Linked DNA regions of Homo sapiens. The protein of the gene in region 2 interacts with the protein of the main gene of each other region in a pairwise test. Each region holds a gene or a part of one and is shown on either strand. Other genes may lie near its edges.

Evidence for each region.
Region 1: the proteins of PFDN4 (region 2) and VBP1 interact in binary tests that used the Homo sapiens proteins (3 or more experiments, as listed by UniProt).

Annotation. Positions count from the first base shown.
Region 1 is NC_000023.11:155,233,426-155,237,193, reverse strand, and holds part of VBP1 (prefoldin subunit 3), read right to left. Parts: intron 966-3,768; coding exon 827-965; intron 1-826. UniProt on the Homo sapiens protein: Binds specifically to cytosolic chaperonin (c-CPN) and transfers target proteins to it. Binds to nascent polypeptide chain and promotes folding in an environment in which there are many competing pathways for nonnative proteins.
Region 2 is NC_000020.11:54,210,763-54,214,589, forward strand, and holds part of PFDN4 (prefoldin subunit 4), read left to right. Parts: intron 1-3,588; coding exon 3,589-3,696; intron 3,697-3,827. UniProt on the Homo sapiens protein: Binds specifically to cytosolic chaperonin (c-CPN) and transfers target proteins to it. Binds to nascent polypeptide chain and promotes folding in an environment in which there are many competing pathways for nonnative proteins.

The DNA.
Region 1 (3,768 bases), on a different chromosome or scaffold from region 2:
AGGCAAAGAGCTTGCCTTCCCCCTTGACCAGAATACCCCACTCCCACCTCTTCTCTCTGCTGATCTTTAAACCCTACGCCGCCTTTAAAAAAGCAGCCTAACTTTTATCTTCTCAACAAAGCCTTCTTTGAACTAAGTCCAGCCTACATCTATCTTTCCCAAAGTTTAAATTGCCTTGGTGTTGCATATGTTAACTTACTTATAGTTTGCTATGAATTATCATTCAGCTGTTTTACATGTACAGTTCTACCAGAGAAAGGCACTGCCACTCTTTTCTAAAATTGATTTTCATGCCCCATATGTCTTAGCACAGTTGCAGGAACATAGGAGACCCTTAAATGCTTGTGAAATTAAACTATTTAACCAGTTATAAAGTTGTCTTGGGAAAATATTTGGAAGAAAAATACTTACTCACCTATGTGAATTTGCTGTTTCCACATCACATTTCAAAATCACTAATCTATCTACAAACTTATTTAAGTACTAGTTCCGAATATCTTATTTATTATCTTATAAAATCTATAACCTTTATATTAGCCTAATAAGGAAATTCTTCCCACTAAAGCAATGTAAGAAAGAATGTGGGAGGTTTTTTGTATTCTAATTTTTTTTTAGTTCTAGGGTACATGTGCAGGATGTGCAGGTTTGTTACAAAGGTAAACGTGTGCCATGGTGGTTTGCTGCACCTATCAACCCATCACCTAGGTATTAAGCCCAGCATGCATCAGCTATTTTTCCTAATGCTCTCCCTCTGCCCATGAAAGAATGTTTTTTTAAAAAAATCTTTCTCCTTTTTTCCCTTGCTTTTTGTTTTAAGAAAGGATACTGACTTCTGTGGTAGTAAATTGATCTCGAAGAAAGTCAAGGTCTTCCTCCAGGGAATCAAGATTCTTTGTGGCAGTCGATAAATTCTTTTCCAACAATGCCTGAGCTTCATCAATATCATATTCAAGCATTACATTAGCCTGAAGAGAGAAAGTCATGACAATTACTCAATATTTACACAGAGCTTTATAGGTTAGAGTAAAGTGTGGGCAAACTACAGCCCTCAGGTCAAATCCAGCTTGCTGCCTTTTGTTGTAAGTTAAGTTTCACTGGAGCCCAGCTATTCTCTACTCAGGCTTTCATACCACAATGGCAAAACTGAGTGGTTGAGACAGAGACCATGTGATCTACAAAACCAAAAATATTTACCATTTGACCTTTTACAGAAAGTTTGCTGACCCCTTGGTTAAAGAATATATTTACATACATTGTATCATTTAATCCTCAACCCTGCTGAGGCCAAAGTTGTCTTCTTCACAGTTAAAGAAATGAAGGCTCAGGTTTCCTTAGCTGGCATAGCTAGTGGGTAAATGGGAGAATCAGGATAAGAAACCAGTATGTTTAGATACAAAATCCTATCTTTCTACTACCTCCATCGTGAAACTAAATAGTGTTGTTTGTATCAATTTAAATAAATTCTGAGCTTGAGATATGATATTAATTTAAAATTTTTCAAAGACATTTATTATCATCTATATTTGACCAGGTAAAAAAGACAGCTAGCTTTTACCTGTCCCTTCCTACTACTTCTGACAGATGTTAGGGATTAAGACAAGGTAATGTGTCTGTCATTCTGAAGATCTAGTGTTACTGCCAACATTCAGGGATGCATGTACCCTGGAATTGGGAAGCCACACCTTTTACAGCTTTGAACTCTCCCTATCACCTGACTTACCACTGGCATTTCCTAAACCACTTTCCTCATCTCACAAATGCAATTTTAAAATTACTCAAAGGATTGTTGTAAGGATTAAACAAGACAACATGAAAGTATTTGGCACAAAGTAAATGCCAAATAAATACTTATTGACCAAATAATCCAATCCATAATTAGAAAACTGTATTAAAATTCAGATAGGACAAAAATATTCAACATAAGCAAAGACTGAACATAAATATAACAAGAATCCACAAAGAAAAAAAAACCAAAGCAGGGGACCAAAAAAATTTCTAAATCCTTCATTTCAACAAAATGTTCCTGAAATGTGACACATGCACATACTACACACACACACACACACACACACACACATACACACACACACACTGGGTGAAATGACACGCAAAATGAAATGAAAGGGTACTTTGTATACCTGGGGGAAACTGACCCAAAAGTCCTTTGAGCATCCAGGCAAAAAGAACACATCACTCATAGAAGAAAGAAATCAGTTTGCCCTCACACTTTTTGACAGTGATGCTTTACAACAAAAGAAAATGGGGCACTGTATAAGATGCTCAAGGAAATAAAATGTGAGTTTAAGATATTATATCCAGCAAAACTGAATTTCAAGTACAAAGGCCACAGACAAGTTGTCAGCAACATGAGATAACTCAGGGAATATCATTCCCATAAATCTTAAGGCAATCTACTTATCAGACGAATGAGTAACATACAATCAAAATGACTGGATGATGACTGGGGGGACATCAACATAAAGACTATGATGTGCATTCAATATTTACACGAAGAACTAGGATAAATGAAAGATGAGAGAGAGAAAGAGAGAGAGCAAACAGTATATAATGGCTCTGTGCTCCAACAATGTGGGAACAACCTTATAAAGAATGTGTAAGGACAGGAAGAACATATGCAAAAATGTCAGTGGTAACAGTGTTGGGTGGTGTTATTCTAAGAATGCTTTGCGTGTGAATAGTAATGTTGTCTAGCTTAATTCTATCACCCTTGGTATTTCTGAAAACCAGGATTCTTGATATAGAAGAAACAGGGGGGCCAGGCGCGGTGGCTCACACCTGTAATCCCAGCACTTGGCAGGCTGAGATGAGTGGATCACTTGAGGTCAGGAGTTCAAGGCCAGCCTAGCCAACATGGCGAAACCCCGTCTCTACTAAAAATACAAAAATTAGCTGGGCGTGGTGGCACGTGCCTGTAATCCCAGCTACTCAGGAGGCTGAAGGAGGAGAATCACTTGAACCCAGGAGGCGGAAGTTGCAGTGACCCAAGATCACGTCACTGCGCTCCAGCCCGGGCGACAGAACAAGACTCTGTCTCAAAAAAAAAAAAAAAAAAAAAAAAAAAAACAGAGGAACAACTAAAGTGAAAACTCTGTTGTCCTGAATTTGAATTGGAGGTAACAGTATGAAACCATGAGGTACACACATATTAACCTGAACCTTTGCACACAAGTTTATGCAGGTTAGCTATATCCTACTGGTTCTATTTCTCCGGTTGAACCCTGACAACAGATTCGTTCACTTACACTTTGCTTTATGCAGTTTTCTGATTTTTTTGTTTATATTTAATATTATATACATATAGAAAAGTATTCATATCATAAATATATAGCTTGATGTATTTTCACAAACTTAACACACTCATGGAACCAGCATCCAGATCAAGGACAGGTTATCACCAACACCCCAAAGCTTCCTTGTGAACATTTTCAGTTACCACCAGCACCCCCACCGCAAAGGTAACCATTAACCTGACTTACAGCATAGTTTTGCCTGTATTACAACTTTACATAAACAGAATGACACAGTATATGTGCTCTTTTGTGACTGACTTCTATAGTAGGCAAGAATTATGGCTCCCATAACAGCTGTCTCATTCTAATCTCTGGAATCTGTGACTCTGATGAGATATTTACATCATTTGTCAGAGCTGACCTTAATATACAGACTGCCTAGGTAGGCCTAATCTAGTTATATGAGCCCTTAAGAGCAGAGAACTTTTTCTGGCTGGCAGCAGAATGAGAAGTTTGA
Region 2 (3,827 bases):
CATTGAACATTATCTTGTTCATCTTGTTTTTTGCTCTCTTCCTCCACCAGGATGTATGCTTGCCATTTGTATTCATGAAAGTGGGATAGTGGCTCTCTTGTCACAGTGCATGGCGTATAGGAAACAGTAATTGTTAAATAAACTACTGCATGGATGAAAGTTGAATACAAAAATTAGCTGGGCATGATGGCGTTTGCCTATAATCCCAGCTACTCGGGAGGCTGAGGCACGAGAATCGCTTGAACCTGGGAGGCAGAGGTCGCAGTGAGCCAAGATCACACCACTGCACTCCAGCCTGGCGATAGAGCAAGACTCGTCTCAAAAACAAAAAAACAAACAAAGAAGGTTGAATACAAATACAAAGCAAAAGTTTACATCATACAGACTTGGTAGATATGTTTTTAAAAGTAAAAATAAAAGACTGAAATTGGCCAGAATTTATTTCTAGGGACCCAGCTGTCAGTGCAGACTCCGTGTAATACCTAGACTTGGTGTGAGGCATGACTGAGTATGGTTCAGTTTCCTCCTCTAATCCCGTAAGATATTAGTTCTCAAGAAAAGAGCCCAGGGAATTTTAATTTTTACTTTGGATCCCGAGCAGGCATATTTCTCTTTGGCCTAGCAGAATTTCTTTCTAGATCTGGATCTGTTCTTTGTAATGATTTTTGATAAACAATATTCAGGATGTAAAATGCTTAGCTATCATTTGACTGACTCCATCATCAGGCTTTCTCCTACATGTTCATTTTATCAACCCTATAAGGTAGGAACTAGCCTCTCCATTTTACAGATGAGAAACCTGAGGTGGTTCCAAAGAATTGGGTAATTTGCCCAAGGTTCCTGTTTGCTTGGATTGGATTGCAGCCTGACTCTTCCCACCACTCTGTGTGCTGCCTCAGATACTATAGGATATGAGTTCTTCCTAGAGTTCTTCTGACTTTGAGAGTAGCTACAGCTGGTTTCCCTGAAGGCAGGAGTTCCTAACCTTTTGGGGTTGTGGATCCCTTTGAGAATCTGGTGAAAGCTATGAAGACCTTCCAGAAGGATGCACATACTATACATGCCATTTTGCATACAGTCTCTGGGTATATCGACCTGTCAATGTCCATTGACCACCCCCACCCCCCAGTTAAGAATTACCCACTTCTGGCTGGGCGTGGTGGCTCAAGCCTGTAATCCCAGCACTTTGGGAGGCCGAGGCTGGTGGATCACCTGAGGTTAGGAGTTCAAGACCAGCCTGGCCAACATGGTGAAACCCCTTCTCTACTAAAAATACGAAAATTAGCCGGACATGGTGGCATGTGCATGTAATCTCAGCTACTTGGGAGGCTGAGGCAGGAGAATGGCTTGAACCCGGGAAGTGGAGGTTGCAGTGAGCCAAGATCATGCTACTGCACTTCAGCCTGGGCGACAGAGTGAGACTCTGTCTCACCAAAAAAAAAAAAAAATTACCCACTTCTTGCCAAAATGCAGCTTCAAGAAATGTAGGAATGTTCTAGGACAGTGAGACTAAAACAGAAGCCTCTGTTAGCCATCAAAGGCACTGACATCTTACTGTCTGCTGTAAATGGCACTCCACTGGGCGGCATGCAGTATATTTGACTCACACATCAACTTTAGCCCTTAACCCCAGTGGGAAAACCACTGTAAAGATCTGGATACCAGGGGCCACATGTGTGCTGATGCCTGTGGTTTGGTGGGGCTACAACAGGAAATTCCTGCTTTGGAAAGACAGAAAGCAGATAGCCAAATTCTCTCTACCACATTTTGGAAACTATGTGTTTGAGTCTGATCAAGCATGATTTAGATTCAAATTCAGAAACCATGTATTAGCCTTAGTTATGTGCCAGGCAGTCCTGCACTGGATCCGTTCATGTGAATGGCTCTGTTGAGCCCTCACCAAGACAAATACATCTATAAATGCCTGTTGGGGGTTCAATATTTAAACAAAATGGCATATACTCTTCAGGCAAACAGGAACTCTTCAGAATTCTCTGCTGTCTATTTGCGTAGGGAATTGACAGTTCTCACTTAGGCAAAATGACTTGTGTGCCAAGATATAGACTTTGGTTTCTTGAGCGTAGCTCAGTGTTCCCCAACTTCCATATTCATCAAAATTATGCATACGGTTGAACACTCAAAGCTAGACATAGTGTGATGTAAAGGATTTTTTCAGGCTATCTTCTGGGTTGTTGAGGTGGGGCATAATGCATGTGAAATTGTTTCTTGGAATGAGAGCCTAACAAAGGGGAGGACTGTGTTATATTCCGACCACTGAGCTCTGTATTGCTTGACACTGCCTTTCAACCTCTGAGAAATAAAAGTTCACATACCTTAAGTCGATGGTCATGAGAGACCAGGTCAGGGATGGAGTGTGAATGTTGTGAGCTCATTACTGTTACTGCAAAAGAGCCAAAAGTAGTGTTTCAGTATGAACTATTTTTATACACACACAAATATCTTTTCTTCTTTAAACTAGAATCAGGTGCTCTGGTTTTCATTTTATAAATGGAAGGGAAACCCTAAGGAGAGTCTGGTTTTATGTTTTAGCTTTATTTTTTAAAAATATATGGTACCTCCTTGAGAATCTGATGAAAGCAGACATCCTGCTGCCTCTTCCAGATGTGCCTAAGCCTGTGTACACACTCACACACACACGTGCACACTCACAGAGACGCACGTTCACATTCAGTTACCGAGAACTCATGGACCTGTCTGACCTCTGAAGCCAGTCTGCCTGGGTTGAAATCAAGTTCCACCACCTACTGGCTCTGTGGCTTTGGCCATATTATATAAAGTGTACCTCAGTTTCTCAATCTGTAAAATAGTGCTGGTGATCCTCCCTAATAAGATGGATTGCAGGATTAGCAGAGATAATAAAGTACTTAGGAAGTTTTGGCACATAGTAAATTCAATCAGTGTTAGCTATTTTTTTATTATTTCATTGGTACTTTATGTTATCCAAGTACTCTTTATTTGCAAATTTGTAAATTTAATCACATTAAATATTAATTTTTAAATACTAAACATTCAATTTTCATCATTTTTTAGTAAAGTAGACCTTATTAAGACATTTAAACAGGTCCTACATTATAAACATAATTTTTGCTGTGAATGGAATAGAGCCACTGAAATGTACAGTGACCCTTTAGCCAGTAAGCTCATGCAAGTTTTAGCTCTAAGAAAAAAAAAACACTACTCTGAGACATTTACCAATATATTTGACCATGTAACTTTTTGTTTCCTGGGTCATCTTAATGAAAGAATGCTCCAACTTGAGAAATTCTGCTCTGTGCCAAAAGTTGGCTTTTTTTCTTTCCTTTTAAAAGGACTTATTAATTGTTCTTTATGTTTGCAATATGTTTATAGCTTAGGAATTATTTTATGGAGTATCAGAAAAGGTTATAGATTTACAAACAAACCTTAAGCTTGTGGAGCAAAAAATAAGGCATTTGTTATGTTCTGTACTTCTTGTGATTCTTGACTATATGAGTGCAAATGGCTTATTGAGTTATTGTTGAGAAATATAAAAAGCTAACTGATAACTTCTCCGTTAAAATTTTACAAAAACTTAAACACTTCTTTCAGGCTGCAGAAGATGTCAATGTTACTTTCGAAGATCAACAAAAGATAAACAAATTTGCACGGAATACAAGTAGAATCACAGAGCTGAAGGAAGAAATAGAAGTAAAAAAGGTATTGAAAATAATTATTAGAAGAATAAAATTTTTTTATACTATAGCTACTAAAACTGAACTCAGTTAACAAGTGAATATATATTTCTCTGGGCTGTTTGTTGCAGATGAATGACGCGATCCACTCTAGTT